Linked DNA regions of Homo sapiens: all the other regions are linked to region 3. Evidence: fine-mapped expression QTL. A gene starts in region 3. Each other region holds a variant in brackets. All regions are shown on one strand. Distances are between the middles of the regions.

Region 1 (5,000 bases), 230 kb after region 3:
CATGGAAACAGAAAGCAGATTAGCGGCTGCCATGGGTTGGAGGAAGGGAGGAATGAGGAGTGGTTGCTTACCATGTGCAGTGTTCACTTTTGGGCTGATGCAAGCATTTTAGAAATAGAGGTGACGGTTGTATAACTTTCTGAATATACTAGATTCTACCGAAACACACGCTTTTAAAATTTTTTCTTATTTTTATTTTTAATTTTAATTTTTTTGTTTGAGATGGAGTGGCACTCTGTCTCACGTAGTCTGGAGTGCAGTGGTGCAAACTTGGCTCACTGCAACCTCTGCCTCCCAAGCTCAAGTGATTCTCCTGCCTCAGCCTCTTGAGTAGCTAGGATTACAGGTGTGCACCACCACGCCTGTCTAATTTTTGTATTTTCAGTAGAGATGGGGTTTCACTATGTTGGCCAGGCTGGATTTGAACTCCTGACCTCAAGTGATCCACCCATTTCAGCCTCCCAAAGTGCTAGGATTACAGGTGTGAGCGCCTGGCATTACAGGCACGCCCCACGTGAAACAGACACTTTAAAGTGGTGAACTTGATGTTATGTGAATTTTATCTTAATAAAATTAATGCTATATGCATTTTCATGCTTTAAAAATTATTATGCAGGCCGGGCGTGGTGGCTCACGCCTGTAATCCCAGCACTTTGGGAAGCCGAGGCAAGTGGATTATGCACAAGGTCAGGAGATCGAGAGACCATCCTGGCTAACACGGTGCAACCCCGTCTCTACTAAAAATACAAAAAATTAGCTGGGCGTGGTGGCGGGCACCTGTAGTCCCAGCTACTCGGGAGGCTGAGACAGGAGAATGCTGTCAACCCAGGAGGCGGAGCTTGCAGTGAGCCGAGATCACGTCACTGCTCTCCAGCCTGGGCGACAGAGTGAGACTCTGTCTCAAAAAAACAAAACAAAACAAAACAAAACAAACAAAAACAAACAAGAAAGAAATCATACTTAGAGATCAAATGATATTAATTTATAGTATTCCAAATTAAATAAATTGTTCTCTTTTGAAGTGATTTCTATTTTGTTATTTTAAATTCTTCATCATAATTATTTACTGCTGATAATTCATATTACAATGAAAATGCATGTTATTTATGCATTTCTTTTTCCTTTCCTTTCCTTCTTTCTATTCTTCCTTCTTCCTCTACTCCTCTCCTCCTCCTCCTGTGCTCCTCCTCCTCTCCTCCTCTCCTCCGCTCTTTCTCGTCTCCTCCTCCTCTCCTCCTTCTCTTCTCCTCCTCTTCTCCTTCTCCTCCTCCTATCTTCCTCTGCCTCCTCTCCTCCTCCATTCCTCCTCCTTCTCCTCTCCTCCTCCTCCTCTCCTCCTCCTTTTCTCCTCCTCCTCTCTTTCTCCATTCCTCCTCTTCCTCCTCTCCTCCTCCTTCTCTCCTCCTCCTCTCCTCCCCATCCTGTCCTCCTCCTCCCGTCCTCTTCCTCTTGTCCTCCTCCTCCCATCCTCTTTCCTCCTCTTCCTCCTCCCCTCCTCTCCTCCTGTCCTCCTCCTTCTGTCCTCCCCCTCCTGCCCTCTTCCTCCTTTTTCTTCCTCTTTATCCTCCTCCTCCTCTTCACCTCCTCCTCCTTCTCTTCTTCTTCTTCTTCCTCCTCCTCCTCTTCGTCTTCTCTTTTTTGAGATGGGGTCTTGCCCTGTGAACCAGGCTGGAGTACAGTGATGCAATCATAGTTCACTGCAGACTCAACCTCCTGGGCTCAAGCGATCCTCTCACCTCAGCCTCCCAACTAGCTGGGGCCACAGTTGTGCCATCACATCTGTCTAATTTAAAAGATTTTTTTTTTTTTGTAGAGATTGAGTATTGCCATCTTGTCCAGACTGGTATGTATTTCTTTTTAATCTCTTATTTTAGTTTGTCGATGAGAGTAACACTGATATACAGGTGTGGTCACTTGGCTCTGGTGGGACTGGGAAAGGAAGGAGACAGAAAACATGCAGAGCTGGAGTCTGGGGCAGACCCAGGGACCTACCTGTGCCTGCAGGATAACTGAAGTTCAACAGCCCATTGGAAAGGTTCTTGCTCAGGCCTCTGAGGACATCCTCTAGGCCATCCAGCAGGTGACTGGCCACACAGTGCTGCTGTAAGCGGGGCAGGGTCTCCAGGTCCCCAGGGGCCTCCAGCAGCTCATCCAGCGCCTGTAAGATGCTCTGGAGGGATGTGGACACAGACCTAGTGAGCCATGGGCCAGAGGGCCCGCATGAAGACTCCAACCGCTCAGCCCCAGGGAACAGATCCTAGAGACTGTCTATCTGGGGGATGAAGATGGCATTGGCGGCTGGGCGCGGTGGCTCACGCCTCTAATTCCAGCACTTTGGGAGGCCGATGAGGGTGGGTCACAAGGTCAGGAGATCGAGACCATCCTGGCCAACATGGTGAAACCCCGTCTCTACTAAAAATACAAAAATTAGCCGGGCGTGGTGGCGTGTGCCTGTAATCCTAGCTACTCAGGGGGCTGAGGGAGGAGAATCGCTTGAACCCGGGAGGCAGAGACTGCAGTGAGCTGAGATCGGGCCACTAAACTCTGGACTGGCGACAGAGTGAGACTCCGTCTAAAAAAAAAATGACATTGGATGGGATTCCCTAGGTGATCCTTGACTCTGGTTATGGCCCCTCAGAGGCCAACACTTCTGTGCAATATCAA[T/C]GCTGACCTAAACCCAAAGTCCAGGGAAAGCAAGAGGAAAGATATTAAGTGCACTTGGGTGTCCATTAGCTTCCACCAGCCCTGAAAGATGCTGGGAGTCAGACCAGCACCCACTGCATTGGGTCCTGTCCCCTCCCAGACCCAAACTGCCCCAGGCCTCTGTGGGATGCAGCCACCTTCCTGCCTCGCCCCCTTGCCCTGGGTCCTGTCCTTACCTGGATGGTGTTATTGGCCAAGCCTGGCTTGTAGTCTCTGCCCAGGTCCTGGACTTTGTCGAAGAATCGGGAAAGCGTCTGCAGAGAGAGGAGATGTGGGGGTCAGAGAGCCTGGACGGCGGGTGGGAAGTTTAGAACAAGGAGACGGATGCAGTGCTGTGTGGATGGAGTTCCCGCCGCCTCGTCCCTGTGGGGGCCACTCACCTGGCTGTGGACTCCAGGGGGCGGGGTCCAGGTGGAGAAAGTCATATCTGTAGGGAACAAGACAAGCGGCTCATTAGGCGGGAGCGTGTCAGTGTGTGTGCTGGGGGTGGGGAGCTTCTAGGGCCAGGTCATACCTTCACAGACAGTGTCCTTTTGGTTATTCGGGATTCCGTGTCTGGGCTTCCAGCCTGGGCGGCAGCGGCAGCTGTATGAACCCACGGTGTTGAAGCAGACGGTGGAGCTGTCACACTGATGCTGCCCGGAGCTGCACTCGTCCACATCTGAGGACAGGAAGAAGGGGGTCAGGTCCTGTCCCAGCCTGGAGAGGGTCCTGTCTCCTGTCTGTGCCCCCAGCTCGTTCCTCCCGGCATTAGTGCCCCCCTTGGAGAGGTGGACGCTGGGTTATGGAAGCGTGGAGAGGCCTGGGCACAGCAGGTGGGCCCCGTGCAGATGAGCAGGTTATGAATATGGTGAAACGCCTTCCTCCCAGTGAGTCATCAGCTGTTGCCTGGGGTCCCCCTGAGCCTCCCCCCTCAGTACCCCAGCTCCTTCCGCAGGACCCTTGCTCTTTTCTCATCTAGCCTCAGAAGAATGAACGCCTGACACAGTCGGGCGCCTCCAGCGCTCATTCTGCTTGGTTTGTGTGGGCGCCGTTGAACATGTGATCAGATGTTTGTGGGTCTCTGGGAACGTGGGATCTGAGCTCTCGACCTTCACAGACGGTATTGTTTGGGCCATTGGGGGACCCCGGAATCGGTTGCCAGCCCGGGCGGCAGCGGCACTGATAGCTGCCCACGTTGTTGAGGCAGTGGGTGGAGCTGTGGCATGGGTTTTGTCCGGAGGTGCATTCATTCACATCTGAGGACAAAGCCAGAGGGTCAAACCCTGTCCCTGACCAGCCTGGGCCTGCCCTCCACTCACTGCACCCACTCCCCTATCTTTTCATTGCCTCAGACTGAAGACCATTATTGCACGTGCCACCACTTGGTGACCTTCAACTTCACCTTCAAAGCATCTTATGATGGTCTTCCTACCAGATGGGCACAGCAGGGACCATGGTCCCCAGTTTATAGGAGGTGAAACCAAAAGGGAAACTGAGTCATGGGAGCTGGACTTTCTGACTAAAATCTCTCTCCTGCTCCCTCCCTCACTATGGTGGAGGTTCCCCTTCTTAGAACTGGAAGTGACACCTTCTTCCACTCGCACGTGACAGATGAGGAAGGGGTGAGGTCTGGGGGCCCACAAGGGCACTCCAAGCCCTGAAGGCCCTGCCGCCTCCCTGCCGTGTGGCGAGTCCTTCCTGGGAGGTGAATCCTTAGGCAGGGGCTTAGCAGGTCCTTGACCTTGTGGGAACCTGCGGATCTTCTCCCTCCTCCTCGGCTGCTTTGGAGGACCTGACTCAGCTCCATCCCCAGCTCCCGTCCAGCCTCACAGCGTCTTCCTGGGGCCTCTACCTGTGCAGAGCTTCGGGTCCTCAGGTTTGAGCTTGAAGCCAGGCAGGCACTGGCACGTGTAGCTGCCGAGGGTGTTGACGCAGGTGCCGTAGCTTTTACAGAGCCTTGGGTTCTGCTGACATTCGTCCACATCTGCAAGAGGAAGGAGAGGGTGAAGAATGCCCGTAGCTGTGAGCAGCTTTCGGGGCTGAGGGTCCGCCATGTTTCCTGGCACGGAAGCATCTGGAAGGCACCACTGTCTGCTCCCTTTTCTTTTCTTTCTTTCTTTTTTTTTTTTTTGAGACGGAGTCTTGCTCTGTCACCCAGGCTGGAGTGCAATTGCCTGATCTCAACTCACTGCAACCTCCGCCTCCCGGGTTCACGCCATTCTCCTGCCTCAGCCTCCCGAATAGCTGGGACTACAGGCGCCCGCCACCATGCCCGGCTAATTTTTTGTATTTTTAGTATTAGACGGGGTTTCACC
Region 2 (7,808 bases), 34 kb after region 3:
ACAGGCCTGGCTCTTGGACGCAGGAAGCGCCGGGCTTTAGTGGGGCGCAGGTCCTGGGTGAGGGTGCAGTGTTTGGGCTGACTCAGTGGAAAGCCTGCCCCACAGGTGGCTATAAGGTGAGAAGTGGGTGGGGAGGAAGGTTGGGGAGACCTCATCAGCCCAAGCTGGAGGCGGTTGCCTAAAACTTCCACACACCCCGATCCTTTCCACACTTCGAGAGAGGCTCTCTGCACCCATAACTCCAGAATCTGTCACCTCCCTGGTAACACAAATGCACAAGGAAAATAATCCAAAGTGTCTCTTACAGCTCAGAAGGGGAAATGGATGATCTGTCTCGCGGATTCTCAAAATAGCTGGGATTTCTCCAAGCCCAGTGAACTCCCTAGGCCTGAGCTGCGGGCTGGGGCCTGCACGGCCCGCTGGCCTCTCACTCTCCTCTAGCCACTGGCTCTGTGCAGGGCGGGGGCTGGGAGGTGTTGTCATGCCTGCCCCTGGGGCTTTCCCTGTGCTGGTGCCGTTGAGGGTTTTGAGGTGACCACTCAAAAGCTGCTTTCAGGGCAGCCTGGCTCCCCGGGGAGACTCCCAAGCCCCCCTCAGAGAAGGTCTGTGGCATGGCTCCTGGGGGGCGCAGTCTGGGGTGGTTTTATATTTAGCTGGGCTGTGGCTGTGGTTGCCACTCGGGTTACATCTGGCACAGAAGTCGGCAGTGCCAGGGCCGGCACGGGCTCCTTTCCAGCACCGCGGCAGAATTTGATCGCGCTTGCCCGGCCCAGGGCTGCTTCCCGTGGGGAGGTCGGTGGTGGGGGCTGACGGCCGGCAGCTGGGGCTGCTGGCCACCGTGGGCAGAGCCGAGTGGCAGGGCTGGTGGCAGGCGGCATGGACTTGAACTTGAGCTTGTTGGCCCGGGAGGCCACCCCAGGCCTCCTCCCTGGCCTCAATGGGCTCCCCAGGCCCACACCCCCAAAGGTGGCCAAGAAACCTAAAAAGGCTGTTCTCTTCTTCGAGGTGGAGATTCTGGACGCAAAGACAAGGGAGAAGCTGTGTTTCTTGGACAAGGTAGGACTGGGGCGTGGGCTGCACTGGGCCAAGGGCACTGGGCCCGGGACCCCAATCCTTATAGCCCAGGAGCTGTCCAGTGGGGCCCTTTGTGCCCCACCCCCTGCCCTATGGAGGGGTATGCCCTCACTTGGGGTAGGGTGGATAGCCATGTCCCCTGGGTGTGGCGGGGAAATGGAGGCACAGGAGTCTCAGTGGACCCTGCGGGGATTTTGGTCCTGGGAGGGCGGTGGAGGAGTGAGCCTTGCCCCTGCTGAGGCCGGGCCTGGGGGAAGGGGCTTGCGCTGTCCCTGGGGAGGACAGAGGGCCTTTGCTCCTGGGAGAGTCATGGGTGAGAAGTGGAGAGGAGGGGCAGAGAAGCAGGCTTGCCTTCCCATGCTTAATCCGCCACTAGCCGGGCTGGGGGCCTGCTGGCTGAGGGTAAAAGTGGAGCCCCAGACCCCTGCTGTCACTGCACTGGCAGGGCCCTCGGTGGTCCTTCCCTGACTGCAGGCAGAGGCCTGGACCCCAGCCCTTCCCCCTTCCCATAGCTACAGCCCAACCCCCAGCCTGCCATCCCCTTTAGTACCTCCCCATCCTGAGTCTGGGCTCCCCGCAGAGCTGACGTCCCTGCGCCTGTGCTTCCCCCAGGTGGAGCCCCACGCCACCATTGCGGAGATCAAGAACCTCTTCACTAAGACCCGTGAGTTCTAGTCCCGGCCACACTGCCCCTGCAACCCCTTTGACCAGGGACCTTAGGGTGGGAGGGATCCCATCCTGCACCCCTCTCCCAGGGGCCTGCAGAGATGCCCCAGTGTGGCCCAGGCTTCTGGGGCGTGACTGGGGCAGGCGCCTCCACGTGGCACTCCGCAGGAACGCCCTTGCTAGGCTCTGGGAAGGACAAGATCCTGCTTCTGCCCGCGCTCTTCTGGCTTGTGTCCTGAAACCGCACAAGCCTGAGGGTTTGCCCCCAGGTGGGAGGAGCTGTGGAGTCCTGGGGTCCTTGCACCCTGGGAACCCTGAGAAGCTGGCACAGTGGCTGGGCAGCGGACCGGCTGAGCCCTGCCAGGCTGTGGGCTGTAACTGCCCTGTTCTCCCCGCAGATCCGCAGTGGTACCCCGCCCGCCAGTCCCTCCGCCTGGACCCCAGTGAGTACAGCTGTCCACTCGGCCCGCCCCCTGGGCTCCTGGGTGGCAGTGGGAGAAGGCCCGGGTAGCCCCTGAGCCCTGGCCCGCCTCTCTGCAGAGGGCAAGTCCCTGAAGGATGAGGATGTTCTGCAGAAGCTGCCCGTGGGCACCACGGCCACACTGTACTTCCGGGACCTGGGGGCCCAGATCAGCTGGGTGACGGTGAGTCCTGACCCTACCCACGGCCTCTTTTCCCGTCAGCCACGTTGGGTGACTCATCTTGCCCCCCTCTACTCTCAGGTCTTCCTAACAGAGTACGCGGGGCCCCTTTTCATCTACCTGCTCTTCTACTTCCGAGTGCCCTTCATCTATGGCCACAAATATGACTTTACGTCCAGTCGGCATACAGTGGTGCAGTAAGTGGGGCAGGTGGGAGGAGGGTAGGGGAAGGCAGAAGACCTGCCGGACCAGCCCCAGCTGAGCCTGCTCCCCCCGACCAGCCTCGCCTGCATCTGTCACTCATTCCACTACATCAAGCGCCTGCTGGAGACGCTCTTCGTGCACCGCTTCTCCCATGGCACTATGCCTTTGCGCAACATCTTCAAGGTGAGAGCCCGTCCCCGCCTCACCCCTAAGCCCCGCCTTTCTGCCCCACCCCGCCCCGCCCCCACCGAGCCCCACCCCAAGGCCCTTCCTGTCTGCCACTACGCCCCAGCAGAGCCCTACCCCTAGGCCCCGCCTAACCTCCCCAGCCCCGCCCTCGCAGAGCCTCTAGACCCCGCCCGTCCTCCCCAGCCCCGCCCCCGTCGGGCCCCTAGGCCTGCCTATCCACCCTAGTCCCACCCCTAGGCACCGCCTATCCCCCCAGCCCCGCCCCTGCAGAGCCCCGCCCCAGTTTCACCCCTAGGCCCCTCCTGTCCACCACGCCCTCACAGAGCCCTGCCCTAGCCTCACCCCTTGGCCCCGCCTATCCTCCCCAGCCCCGCCCCAAGGCCCCTCCTGTCCTTTCCCACCATGCTCCCAGGCCCCTCGGGATGAGACATGGGCAGCATCTGCCTTGTCCGGTGCTGGCCCAAGTCCCATCCCTGCCCTGCTCCCTTTCAGAACTGCACCTACTACTGGGGCTTCGCCGCGTGGATGGCCTATTACATCAATCACCCTCTCTACACTCCCCCTAGTAAGTGGCCTCAGACCATCCTTCCCTCCCCCACGGTCCCCACCCAGCGGGTCCTCCCCTCATGGGCTCCCCTCCCTGCTTCCTCTTCAGCCTACGGAGCTCAGCAGGTGAAACTGGCGCTCGCCATCTTTGTGGTAAGGAGGCTGGGTGTGGGGACGGGGTCGGGGGAGTCTGGGCGGCCCTAGGCTGATCCTGCTTCTCTGACAGATCTGCCAGCTCGGCAACTTCTCCATCCACATGGCCCTGCGGGACCTGCGGCCCGCTGGTGAGTGCCTGCTGGGGGCAGGGGGACAGCTGGGCTGGGTGAGGGGGTCTGACTTTCTCCTTCTGTCCTGCCTGCCAGGGTCCAAGACGCGGAAGATCCCATACCCCACCAAGAACCCCTTCACGTGGCTCTTCCTGCTGGTGTCCTGCCCCAACTACACCTACGAGGTGAGGGGCTGCCTTACCCCTCTCTGCCCTGGGACTTGGGGTCCCATGTGGAGGGACCAGCCCCTAGGATGGGGCGCCTGGCTGGGCAGCTGCTTTTGCCGCCTGCACTGCGAGCATTGGGAGGTGGAGACCGCGGCCTCTCTGCTGTGGTGGCGGGGAGGCGTGTGCCGCTGGGCTTCCGCCGTATACAGCCCCGCCTCCGCTGGAATTGGGTTCCCATCCCTGACTCAGAAAGCAGGGGCGGCGGGAGGTGGCTGGCTGAGTCCAGGACAGCCACATACACGGGTTGCGAGGCTGCCCACGCTCACTCTCCGCCCCTGCCCACAGGTGGGGTCCTGGATCGGTTTCGCCATCATGACGCAGTGTCTCCCAGGTGAGCCTGCCGCCCTCCCTCGGCGGGGCCCTGCCCCTCCGGGCCGGCAGCCCCTCCCTGACGCCCGTTCTTTCCTGCAGTGGCCCTGTTCTCCCTGGTGGG[C/T]TTCACCCAGATGACCATCTGGGCCAAGGGCAAGCACCGCAGCTACCTGAAGGAGTTCCGGGACTACCCGCCCCTGCGCATGCCCATCATCCCCTTCCTGCTCTGAGCGCTCACCCCTGCTGAGGCTCAGCCCCTCAACCCGGTGGCATTCTGGGGGAGGAGTGGGGCCCACAGCTCTCCAGCACCCGGAATAAAGCCCGCCTGCCCCAGTCGGACTCGGGCTCTGTGTGTTTCTTTCCGGGGTTGGGGACCACCACACTGCCCTTCACTCTCTCCCCACTCTCGCGTCGGAGCAGTAAGAGGGGACTCTGGTTGAGGGGCCTGAAGGCTTTTATTTGACTGGTCCATAGGGTGGGGGGTGCACCCCCTACAGGGCCACCTTGGGGTCCACTTCCCCGGGTCCCTGGCCTTTGGCCAACTCTGCCGCCTTCTTCTCCCGCCGCTTCTTCCGCTGGAGCAGCCTCCGCTCCCGCTCAAACTCCTTCATGCGCATCACATAGCTGGGGGAAAAGCACGAGAGGGGCTGTCAGGGTCCCTGGCCAGGACACGCCCCCCAAGCCCTGGGAAGCGGAGGGGCCGTCCCAGAGCACTGTGGGGGAGGCCTCTGAAGAAGACATGTCCGAGTGCCTGTGGCTTGGGTCTGGGGTCTGCCCACGCAGGTGGCAGGGCTTCCCACTGGAACCTGGGCTTGGCCACTCCCCTAGGTGGCTTCAGCCACCTGCCCTGTCCCCATCAAACAGGCCCCTAGAGAGCCCTCTCTGGGACTAAGGTGGGGCCCGGCTAGAAACCTCAGTGGCAGTTCAGGTCCCTGGCCTCTGGAGCCACATCCTGCCAGGGGCCAGGCCTGGGTGGGGTGCAGGCTGTGGGTGTTGGCGGGGGTGGGAGGGGGGCTTGGGCGGGCTGGGCATGTGGGGGGCTTGGGTGGGCCAGGGGTGTGGAAGGCTGGGGGTATGGGGTGTTGCGGGCCGGGGTGTTGGGGGCTGGTGTGGGGGTGCTCACTCGCGGTGCTCGCAGTAGTCCCAGTCGTGCCGCTCCTGCTTGCAGGCCAGGAAGTTGGGGAAGCTGTCACGCTTGCACTTGAGCAGCCGGATGAGGTGGTGGGCGCAGTAGTCCCGCAGCTGGAGCCTCAGCTGCGCGTCCATCATCTCCTGCTGTGTGGCCACCATCTCTGCAGGGAGTGGGCGGGGCTCAACCAGGCTGGAGGCTCCCCACCCCAATTCCGGGGATCCCCAGGGGACCGAGGCACACGGCTTCAGGAAGGCACGGCTTGGGGTGTCCCCCATTCACATCCAGATGGCAGTGGATGGCAGATGCCTTTGACGGATGCACTGTCCTGAAGGGGCCTCCTTTTCTAATTTGCACAAAGGCAACTCCAGACACCAAGGGCCAGACAGGAGAAGGTGGCTCCCCATCACCCTGAGGCACCTCAACATCCCGTGCCGGATCCTTGCCTCCCCTCCCACAGGGATGCCCGTCCCCAGCTCTCTACAGCCCCGCTCTCCAGAGTCCGAGTTCAGAATCCACCTTCTCCCAGAGTAACCCTCAGCCCCTCCACCTGCACCTGGGGCTCCAGGCAGCACTCCCAGCCTTTCTTGTCTGCAACCCACCCAAGGCCCAGCTCTGCACTGGCCGGCGGCGTGGCCTCTCTCTCAGCCTCAGAACTGACCATCCGGTCATGGAAGTTACCCGAGCATCCACTGAGCTAACAGTACCTGTAAGGTACTTAGGCGTGGGCTCAGAAGACAGCTGGACTAGTATCTGGGTCCCGGTGCCCCACTCACCTAGCAAACCTGACTCCGGACAAATCAACCTTCAGGAGGGGGCCGATGGGAGCATGAGGAATCCTGGACACTCACCCCGGAGCCTGTGCCTGGCGATCCTGCACTCGTTCCCCACCGCCTCCCTCAGACCCAGCCTCCCTAGCCCTCCTGACGTCCACCACATCTTTCTCGGTCCCAGCTCCTTCCCATCTGCGCAAGTGAGACGAGATATATTCACATCTCAATGGCAGTCGTCCCCTGCTGGCTTCTCTCCCCTTTGCTTCCCAGCTGCGATTCTCTCATCCCACTGAGGCCCAGGTCCTCCTCTCCTGCCCCTTGTCCCATTCCCTGGCTTCTGCCCTACCCCCTCACTGCCCAGACACGGGCTCTCACAGGGCCACCCAACAGCCCAGGACCCCAGCCTCCCGCTTCCTTCTTTCCTGTGGCTCCTCCCACATCCCTCCTCCCCAGGTTTCCTCCCATCTCTATGGCTGCCTTACCTTACGCTTTGTTCTGGGAGCCTTTTTCTTTTCTTTTGAGATGGAGTCTCACTCTGTCACCCAGGCTGGAGGGCAGTGGCAAGATCTCAGCTCACTGCAACCCCTGTCTCCCAGGTTCAAGCAATTCTCCTGCCTCAGCTTCCTGAGTAGCTGGAACTACAGGCGCCTGCCACCATGCCCGACTAATTTTTGTATTTTTAGTAGAGATGGGGTTTCGCCATGTTAGTCAGGCTGGTCTTGAACTCCTGACCTCAGGTGATCCACCCACCTTGGCCTCCCAAAGTGCTGGGATTACAGGTGTGAGCCACTGTGCCCGGCCTGAGAGCCTTTTTCTCTGCTGCCGCCCCGTATGTAGATGAGCCCGATGTGGTCCCTCCACCCCACACCTCGCTTGAGCCCCAGGCCTGGGTATCACCTGCAGCCCCTGGCTGTTCCCTATCTGCACTTGGAGCTCCAGGTGGCAATCCTAGACTCCTCCCTCTTTTGTCTTGAACTTATAATCAGCTAGCAGCAAGGACTTTAGACTGCCTACTGTGTGCTTAGTGGTGGGGATACAGCAGGCAACACAACACACAAGTGTCCCTGCCCTCAGAGGGAGACACAGAACAGACAGAAGACAGAGCACCACAGCGTGTCTGGCAGTGCTTAAGTATTAGGGAGACCAGCCTGGGGAGCACAGAAAGATCCCATGTCCAGAAAAAAATAAAATTATCTTTGCACGGTAGTGCACACGGAGTATCCAGAGCTACTCGGGAGGATCGCTTGAACCCAGGAGTTTGAGGCTGCAGTGGGTGATAACCACCCCACTGCACTCCAGCCTAAGCAACAGAGCGAGAGCCCATCTCTACAAACAAATAAATAAATATGGGCCAGGCGCGGTGGCTCACGCCTGTAAACCCAGCACTTTGGGAGGCCGAGGCAGGTGGATCACTTGAGGTCAGAAGTTCGAGATCAGCCTGGCCAACATGGTAAAACCCTGTCTCTACTAAAAATACAAAAATGAGTCAGGTGTGGTGGCACGCACCTGTAATCCCAGCTACTCGGGAGGCTGAGGCGGGAGAATCGCTTGAACCGGGAAGGCAGATGTTGCAGTGAGCAAAGTGACTGGCTGAAAGGGGGTGGAAAGGAGGAAAGAGAGGGCAGGGGACAGTGATCTAGGAGGGAGGGAGAGAGTGAAGGATCCGGGAGGTAAGAGAAAGGCCAGGCACCATAAAGAGTCCACTGGAGTACCAATCGGGAGACCGGTCAGCAGGGACTGCAGGAATGCGCCACCACACCCAGCTAATTAAAAAATAAAAATAA
Region 3 (7,600 bases):
ACAGAACACCTTCAGGTTTTCATCTGTTTTTCCCAGATAGCACCAGTGAAAAAGATAATGAGTTTCCAGAAGACCACATAGCGTTGGCTTCCTGTACTCGCAGTCAGGGATCCCCAAAGGCTACAGCTTCAGAAGTTTCCAGAGCCAAATCTGGATGACTGAGTTCCAAGCACTGACTCACCCTTGCCTCCGCCTGCTCCCCTGTGAATCAGTGATCTACCTTTAAGGACTTCTCATCGTGTCTCTCATGACAGGCCTGTGAATTCCAGATGGTTCAACAGCTCATGAAAGCTCAGGGGCAGGATCTGGAAACAAGAGTAAGGAGAGGAGGTGAAGAAGTGTGCCAGGTACTGCCTGTTCCTTTGTCTGTCAAAAGTCTTTTCTTTTTTTTTCTTTTTTTTTTGAGACAGAATCTCACTCTGTCGCCCAGGCTGGAGTGCAGTGGTGCGATCTTGGCTCACTGCAACCTCCACCTCCCGGGTTCAAGCGATTCTCAGCCTCCCTAGTAGCTGGGATTACAGGTGCCCACCATTACACCTGGCTAATTTTTGTATTTTTAGTAGAGACAGGGTTTCACCACGTTGTCCAGGCTGGTCTTGAATTCCTGACCTCATGTGATCTGCCTGTCTTGGCCTCCCGAAGTGCTGGGATTACAGGTGTGAGCCACCGTGCCTGGCCAGAAATTTATGTGTTTTTCATTTACAGCACATCTCAATTTGGACCAGTCCCATTTCTTTTTCTTTTTTCTTTTTTTTTTTTTGAGACGGTCTGTTGCTCAGGCTGGAGTGTAGTGGCGAGATCTTGGCTCACTGCAACCTCCGCCTCCCGGGTTCAAGCAATTCTTCTGCCTCAGCCTCCTGATTAGCTGGGACTACAGGTGTGTACCACCACGCCCGGCTAATTTTTGTATTTTTAGTAGCGATGAGGTTTCACCATATCTGCCAGGCTGGTCTCGAACTCCTCACCTCGTGATCTGCCCCCCTCGGCCTCCCAAGGTGCTAGGATTACAGGTGTGAGCCATCGTTCCCGGCCTGGACCAGCCCCATTTCAAGGGCTCAGTGGCCCCATTGGAGCCACTAGACACGATTCTGGACGTCAGGCAGAGACCAATGTAGTTCCCCTGTCCATAGGGCGGAGCAAAGTGTGGAGGGGGGCCGGGCGGGGTGGCTCAGGCCTGTAATCCTAGCACTTTGGGAGGCTGAGGCGGGAGGATCACCTGAGGTCAGGAGTTCAAGACCAGCCTGGCCAACCATGGGGAAACCCCGTCTCTACTAAAAAAAATACAAAAATTAGTCGGGCGTGGTGGCGGGTGCCTGTAATCTCATCTACTTGGGAGGCTGAGGCATGAGAATCGCTTGAACCCGGGAGGCGGAGGTTGCGTGAGCCGTCATTGCGCCACTGCACTCCAGCTGGGGGACAGAACGAGATTGTTTCAAAAACAAAACAAAACAGAAAAACAAAGTGGGGCGGGGCTTTCATTAAAAACGGCAGTGAAGCCACCCCAGAATGGGGCTGGGGCTCAAGGTTCTTGCAGGTTGGGGGTTCCCAAATGGGGAGCTTTTCGCGACTCCGTTTCGCCTTTCCTTCCCTCCCACTCAAGAGTCTCCTCCCATAGTGACCTCCTCGCCAACCAGACTCCGCAGCCCGCGACCCCAGCCCCTAGCCCTCTCCTGCTGTTCCCGGTGTACCCCGGGGGCCGCCCACCTCAGAATTTACCCCTTCGGCGCCGCCTGTCATGTGGATGCTGCCTTGCCTGTCACTCAACTTCTTACCCCGCCCCCGCGTCTGGCCTAACCGTCGCTTACCTTGGTTTCCACAGCGACGCCATCAGGGGGCGTGGCAAAGGGACGCGCGGGGCAGAGACCTCCTTTGGATTGGTGGATGGTCAAGCCCCTTCTCTTTAGCCCCTCCTACAGGCGTTCCGCCCCCTTCGATTGGTCTCGCAAGTTGATTGGTCAATCCCCTGGTGCTAGTCCTAGTCTTGGTTCGGACCGGCCCCAAGGAGCAGGGGCGAACGTGGGCGCCTCGTGCCCTGATTGGCCGACGGGGCGCGCGCGGCCTGGAGGGGCGGGGCGGACGCAGAGCCGCGTTTAGTCTATCGCTGCGGTTGCGAGCGCTGTAGGGAGCCTGTGCTGTGCCGCGCAGTTAGGCAGCAGCAGCCGCGGAGCAGTAGCCGCCGTGGGAGGGAGCCATGAAGCATTACGAGGTAAGAAGCGAGAAACAGGGGCCGTGTGGCCACTGCTGACCCATTCTTTTTCCTTCTTTGCGGGACCACGGGACCCCACTTTCTGGTCCTGTGCCCCGAAGGAAGAGCCAGACGGCGCAGGCGCAGTGGGCAAGCGTTGCGCCCCGGGCCACTCGTAAATTCCAATGCGCATGTGCGCAGGAAGTATTTATAAATCTGCAACCCAGGCTGTTTTGGGGGTACTTTTTCTTGGGGGTCTCTGCAGGGGCTGGGACGCTTGCAGGTTCCTTGCAGCTCCCCCAGCGGGCTGAGTTGCAGACTTTGTCATGGGAGCCACGAAGGTGCGGGACCCTTGCTCCCAATCCGAGGGAGTCTTGCACAAATCTTGCGCCACGCCGCCGTCACCAGCGTAGGAAGGGGCTTTGCTATCAGTATTCTTGTGTACGACCTTTGGACCCCTTCCCTCGCCCGGGACGTTCCCGGGAGACTTAGGCGGTGAGGGAGGTGCAGCTCCACGGCTGGCTTTCGCAGAGCAGCGAAGCTGATCTTGCTTTCTGGTTATCAAAGAGGTCATCTACGTCAACCCTTGGGTGTCACCAAGGAGAAATCTTATACCCACCCACAGCCACTCTTGAAGCCCAAGTCTTCTGACTCCTAACTTGGGTCTCTTTTTCCCTTAAAACGAAGTCTTCTGATGTGCTTATCGCCCTAGGTGATAATATAATATTAATAATTCAACCAATTATCCCTGAATTATTGCTGACTTTTAAGTAACTATCATCAAATAATAAAATTTGTTATTAAAATTCAAAATAACAATTTAGCAAGTGCTTACTCTTGTGCTGGTGAGATTCTGTTACCTTGTATAAGAACTATTATTATTCCTGTTTGTAAGGATGAATAAAGTCTCAGAGATATAAAGTGACTTGTTCAAAGGCCCCTAGTTAGTAAATGCAAAACAGATAGGGGAACTCAGGACGCCAAGGTCTTAGTTCCTAGCCACTATGCCATGCTGGTCCTCAAATGAAAAATAGCAGGTCGAGCGATTTCTTGTTTCTCACTTCCCCTCCAATTTAAAAAATTCTGGCAAAATACACATAAAATTTACCATCTTGACTATTTTTAAGTGTGCAGTTCAGTGGCATTAAGAACATTCACATTGTTGTGCAACCATCACCACCACCCATCTCCAGAACTCTTTGCATCTTGGAAAACAGAAGCTGTAGACGTTAAATACTAACTCCCCATTCCTCTCCACCTCCACCTCTGGCAGCCACCATTCTACTCAGCCACCATTCCGTCTTAATGAATTGACTACTCTAGGTACCTTGGATACGTAGAAGGATTTTTTTTTTCTTTTGGAGACAGAGTTTCGGTCTTATTGCCCGGGCTGGAGTGCAATGGCGCGATCTCGGCCTACTGCAAACTCCGCCTCCTGGGTTTAAGCGATTCTCCTGCCTCAGCCTCCTGAATAGCTGGGATTACAGGTGACCGCCACCATGCCCGGCTAATTTTTTGTATTTTTAGTAGAGATGGGGGTTTCACCATGTTGACCAGGCTGGCCTCAAACTCTTGACCTCAAGTGATTTGCCCTCCTCGGCCTCCCAAAGTACTGGGATTACAGGTGTGAGCTAGTGCGCCCGGCTGTTTGTTTTTATTGACAAGTTGAATATTACTACCTCTGCCTCCTGCCCCCTTTATTGCTACTATTTTTGGAAATTTACCCACAATCCTTTGAAGCCTTTTTTTGAGACGGAGTTTCGCTCTTGTTGAGTACGCTGGAGTGCAATGGCGTGATCTTGGCTCACCGCAACCTCCACCTCCCGGGTTCAAGTGATTCTCCTGCCCCAGCCTCCTGAGTAGCCGGAATTACAGTCATGAGCCACCATGCCCGGCTAATTTTGTATTTTTAGTAGAGACAGGGTTTCTCCATGTTGGTCAGGCTGGTCTCGAACTCCCGACCTCAGGTGATCCACCCACCTTGGCCTCCCAGAGTGCTGGGATTACAGGCATGAGCCACGGTGCCTAGCCCCTTAGAAGCCTTTAACCCACAAATCCTGTAATTTTTGACATGGTATCAAGAATGAGGAGGTTTGTATTCAATAATCTCTGTCATTTAAGTTTTCATTCTAGAATGAAGTTCTGATGTGGATTCCCCTCTCAAACTCTATATCTAAACCTGTAGTCCCACTACTGTAGTCTCAGCTACTCGGGAGGCTGAAGCAGGAGGATGGCTTGAGCCCAGGAGGTTGAGGCTGCAGTGAGCCCAAAAATCAGGCCACTGCACTCCAGCCTGGGCAACAGAGACCCTGTTTGAAGAAAAAAAAAAAAAAAAAAAAAAGCTACCATGTCCAGCTTGAAACATGCAGTTTGGAACATCCATATGGCATTTTGCAAATGTAGTTGGTTTAGTTTTGCTAGTTAACAGTCAGATAAAGTAGGCCTCTGAGCACCCTGGGGGTGCGTGCTTTTGTTCCAGGAAGCTGGGCACAGCCTGAGGCCCAAGACTTGGACTGGAGAATATGCTCCACCGTACTTAATCCTTTTCTCTCCCAGAAAGAAGGGGGAGCTTTGGCCAGGCATGGTGGCTCACGCCTGTAATCCCAGCACTTTGGTAGGCTGAGGTGGCCGGATCGCTTGAGGTGAGGAGTTCAAGACCAGCCTGGCTAACATGGAGAAACCTTGTCTCTACTAAAAATACAAAAGTGAGCCGAGTGTTGTGGCACACGCCTGTAATCTCAGCTACTTGGAGGCAGAGGTTGCAGTGAGCTGAGATCATGCCACTGTACTCCAGCCTGGATGACAGAGCGAGAGTCTGTCTCAAAAAAAAAAAAAAAAAAAAAAAGGGAAGCTTCAAACTCACTGTTCAAAGTGACCTTGAAGGAAAAAATAAATTGTTATTTTGCTGTGTTGTTTGTTATTCTCTGCCAACCTTTGCCAAGTACCCATAGAGGCGATAGCTACAGGGCTTCTGGGTGGGAGAAGCAGTTGTTTCCCGGCCCAGCGGATTGCATAGCAAGCAGATTAGTTTAACTGCATGTGTGTATTGTAGGTCAGTAAAAATAGAAAGGATGCTTTCACTCACACTTAACAAGCAATTTGAGAAAAGGTTTGTCTACATCAAAGAATATATTTCTGGCCGGGCGAGGTGGCTCATGCCTGTAATCCCAGCACTTTGGGAGGCTGAGACGGGTGAATCACTTGAAGTCAGGAGTTCGAGACCAGCCTGGTCAACATGGTGAAACCTCGTCTCTACTAAAAACAAAAAAATTAGCTGGGTATGGTGGCACGTGCTTGTAGTCCCAGCTACTGGCTTCGAGGCTGAGGAATGAGAATCACTTGAAGCTGGGAGGCGGAGTTGCCATGAGCTGAGATCACGCCACTGTACTCCAGCCTGGGTGACAGAGCGAGACTCTGTTTTAAAAAAAATAAATAAAGGATATATTTCAGCTGGGCACAGTGGCTCATGCCTGTAATCCCAGCACTTTGGGACACCAAGGTGGGCAAATCATGTGAGGTCAGGAGTTTGAGACCAGCCTGGCCAACATGATGAAACTCCGTCTCTACAAAAAATAAAAAATTAGCTGGGTGTGGTGGCGCACGCCTGAAATCCCAGGTACTTGGGAGGCTGAGGCAGGAGAATCACTTCAACCTGGGAGGTGGAGGTTGCAGTGAGCTGAGATCGCACCACTGCACTCCAGCCTGGGTGACAAGAACGAGACTCTGTCTCAAAAAAAAAAAGAAAAAAATCTATTTCTGCTTGGGACTAAATCCATCTTCCCACCCTCAAGCAGTCTGTTGTCCACTGAAAGGTTGGCCCCTGGAGAGACCTTGGAGATTATGAAGTGCAGTTTACAACTGATAGAGGTAATGCCCAGAGGGGTGCAGGACGTGCTGACTGTCACGCAACAAATTAATGTCTGGTTGAGGACTGTTATCATGGCAGTTGGGATCCCAGCAGTAGTGGAGATCGGTGGCTGTTTCCATAGTAGCCTCATATCACTGCCAAATCTCATCTGATCTGAGAGGAAAAGTTTTCCACTCTGTGGCCTAATTGAGGTGAAGCCTCTCTCTAGAACGGGTCACCTCCAGGCCTTGGCTGAAGCCGTCTTCTTAGAATACCAGAGCAGGCCTTAGCATTGTCTTGGGGTCAGAGCTAGGTCGGTAAGCGAACTGCTTATCCTAGGATACAGTATTTTTTTAATGTATTTTTTTATTTTATTGCTGTTTTTGCCACTGCAGATGAGACTCAAAGCAATGAGCCCAGCAGCAACTGGAAAAACAGCTACTACATCTTGTAATTGAGCCTGTTAATTCCTGAGAAAATCAGTCTGTCTTCAGCCTCCAGCAGTCCAGGTCACTGCCCATTTCCCGCAGCTGAATACCCAGAAGCGAGCCTCTTGGGGTCCCCCATAACCCACATTTAGGGTGTTTTCTTTCTTTTTTTTTTTTTACACAGAGTCTCGCACTCTCGCCCAGGCTGGAGTGCAGTGGCTCCATCTTGGCTCACTGTAAGCTCCGCCTCCCGGGTTCACGCCATTCTCCTGCCTCAGCCTCCCGAGTAGCTGGAACTACAGGTGCCTGCCACCATGCCTGGCTAATTTTTTGTATTTTTAGTAGAGATGAGGTTTCACCGTGTTAGCCAGGATGGTCTCGATCTCCTGACCTTATGATCCGCCCGCCTCGGCCTCCCAGGGTGCTGGGATTACAGGAGTGAGCCACCATGCCTGGCCTTTTTTTTTTTTTTTTTTTTTTTTTTTTTTGTGACAGAGTCTCGCTCTGTCACCCAGGCTGGAGTGCAGTGATGTGATCTCACCTCACTGCAACCTCCACCTCCCCGGTTCAAGCGATTTTCCTGCCTCAGCCTCCCAAGTAGCTGTTATTACAGGTGGGTGCCACCATGCCCGGCTAATTTCTGTAGTTTTAGTAGAGATGGGGTTTCACCATGTTAGTCCAGGCTGGTCTCGAACTCCTGGGCTCAAGCGATCCTCCTGCCTTGGCATCCCAAAGTGCTGGGATTATAGGTGTGAGCCACCGCACCTTGCCCAGGGGTGAGTCTTATTAGCACCTGATCAGATGGGAACTACTGTTCTACTTTACAGATAATGCAACTGAAGCTCAGAGAGGTAAACTAAGCTGGTCAAGGTCACAGAGCCTGGAAGCCAGGGAGCTGAACCTGGGTTTGTCAGACTCCAGTTTTGTCCACACTGATGGCTTCTCTGCTGATGCTGCCCTAGGACAGCTGGTGGCTCTCCTGCTGTGTTCTGAGGACAGAGCATCCCTGAAGGGAGGGCGAGGTGCTGCGGGTCAGTGTGGACTGCTGGGAGAGGGTCTTTCTCTGCCCTAAAATCGGATGGGCTGCCCCTTGCAGTAAGGGCAGGATTGAGAGTGATGAGCCTTGCCTGGGTGCAGTGG

Direction of the effects. Positions count from the first base shown, and alleles are read on the strand shown. Sizes are in standard deviations (SD) of each study's normalised expression. Not every link is listed here.
As copies of C replace T in region 2, the expression in monocytes after interferon gamma of the gene that starts at base 2,089 in region 3 goes up (moderate effect, 0.69 SD a copy in Fairfax 2014).

Evidence for each region. PIP is the estimated chance that this variant, and not a neighbour inherited with it, causes the effect. A credible set is the group of variants that fine-mapping cannot tell apart.
Region 1: its variant is the best candidate, but not a certain one, in a credible set for the expression of TECR in nasal epithelium (TOPMed, PIP 0.67).
Region 2: its variant is the best candidate, but not a certain one, in a credible set for the expression of TECR in monocytes after interferon gamma (Fairfax 2014, PIP 0.89).

Annotation. Positions count from the first base shown.
Region 1 is chr19:14,762,441-14,767,440 of GRCh38, forward strand. ADGRE2 (adhesion G protein-coupled receptor E2) reads right to left here. Exons shown (of 21, transcript NM_013447.4): 6 at 4,538-4,669; 7 at 3,795-3,941; 8 at 3,218-3,364; 9 at 3,084-3,130; 10 at 2,880-2,957; 11 at 1,993-2,170. Among named protein-coding and RNA genes, the nearest start is that of ADGRE2, 14 kb to the right of the region's middle. The variant T/C (reference allele first, on the strand shown) is at 2,665.
Region 2 is chr19:14,561,520-14,569,327 of GRCh38, forward strand. It overlaps TECR (trans-2,3-enoyl-CoA reductase), which reads left to right. Exons shown (of 13, transcript NM_138501.6): 2 at 1,006-1,056; 3 at 1,687-1,738; 4 at 2,139-2,183; 5 at 2,281-2,384; 6 at 2,463-2,578; 7 at 2,663-2,768; 8 at 3,267-3,339; 9 at 3,430-3,473; 10 at 3,547-3,604; 11 at 3,683-3,771; 12 at 4,099-4,144; 13 at 4,225-4,461. The coding sequence ends at 4,352. NDUFB7 (NADH:ubiquinone oxidoreductase subunit B7) reads right to left here. Exons shown (of 3, transcript NM_004146.6): 2 at 5,246-5,414; 3 at 4,559-4,746. The coding sequence ends at 4,614. Among named protein-coding and RNA genes, the nearest start is that of NDUFB7, 6.6 kb to the right of the region's middle. RefSeq lists enhancers at 1,324-2,131, 3,748-4,554 and a silencer at 3,021-3,170. The variant C/T (reference allele first, on the strand shown) is at 4,247.
Region 3 is chr19:14,527,506-14,535,105 of GRCh38, forward strand. It overlaps TECR (trans-2,3-enoyl-CoA reductase), which reads left to right and starts at 2,089. Exons shown (of 13, transcript NM_138501.6): 1 at 2,089-2,206. The coding sequence starts at 2,192. MIR639 (microRNA 639) reads left to right here and starts at 2,038; the gene lies at 2,038-2,135. It also overlaps a transcript of DNAJB1 not described here. RefSeq lists enhancers at 1,833-2,417, 2,781-2,840 and a silencer at 1,891-2,180.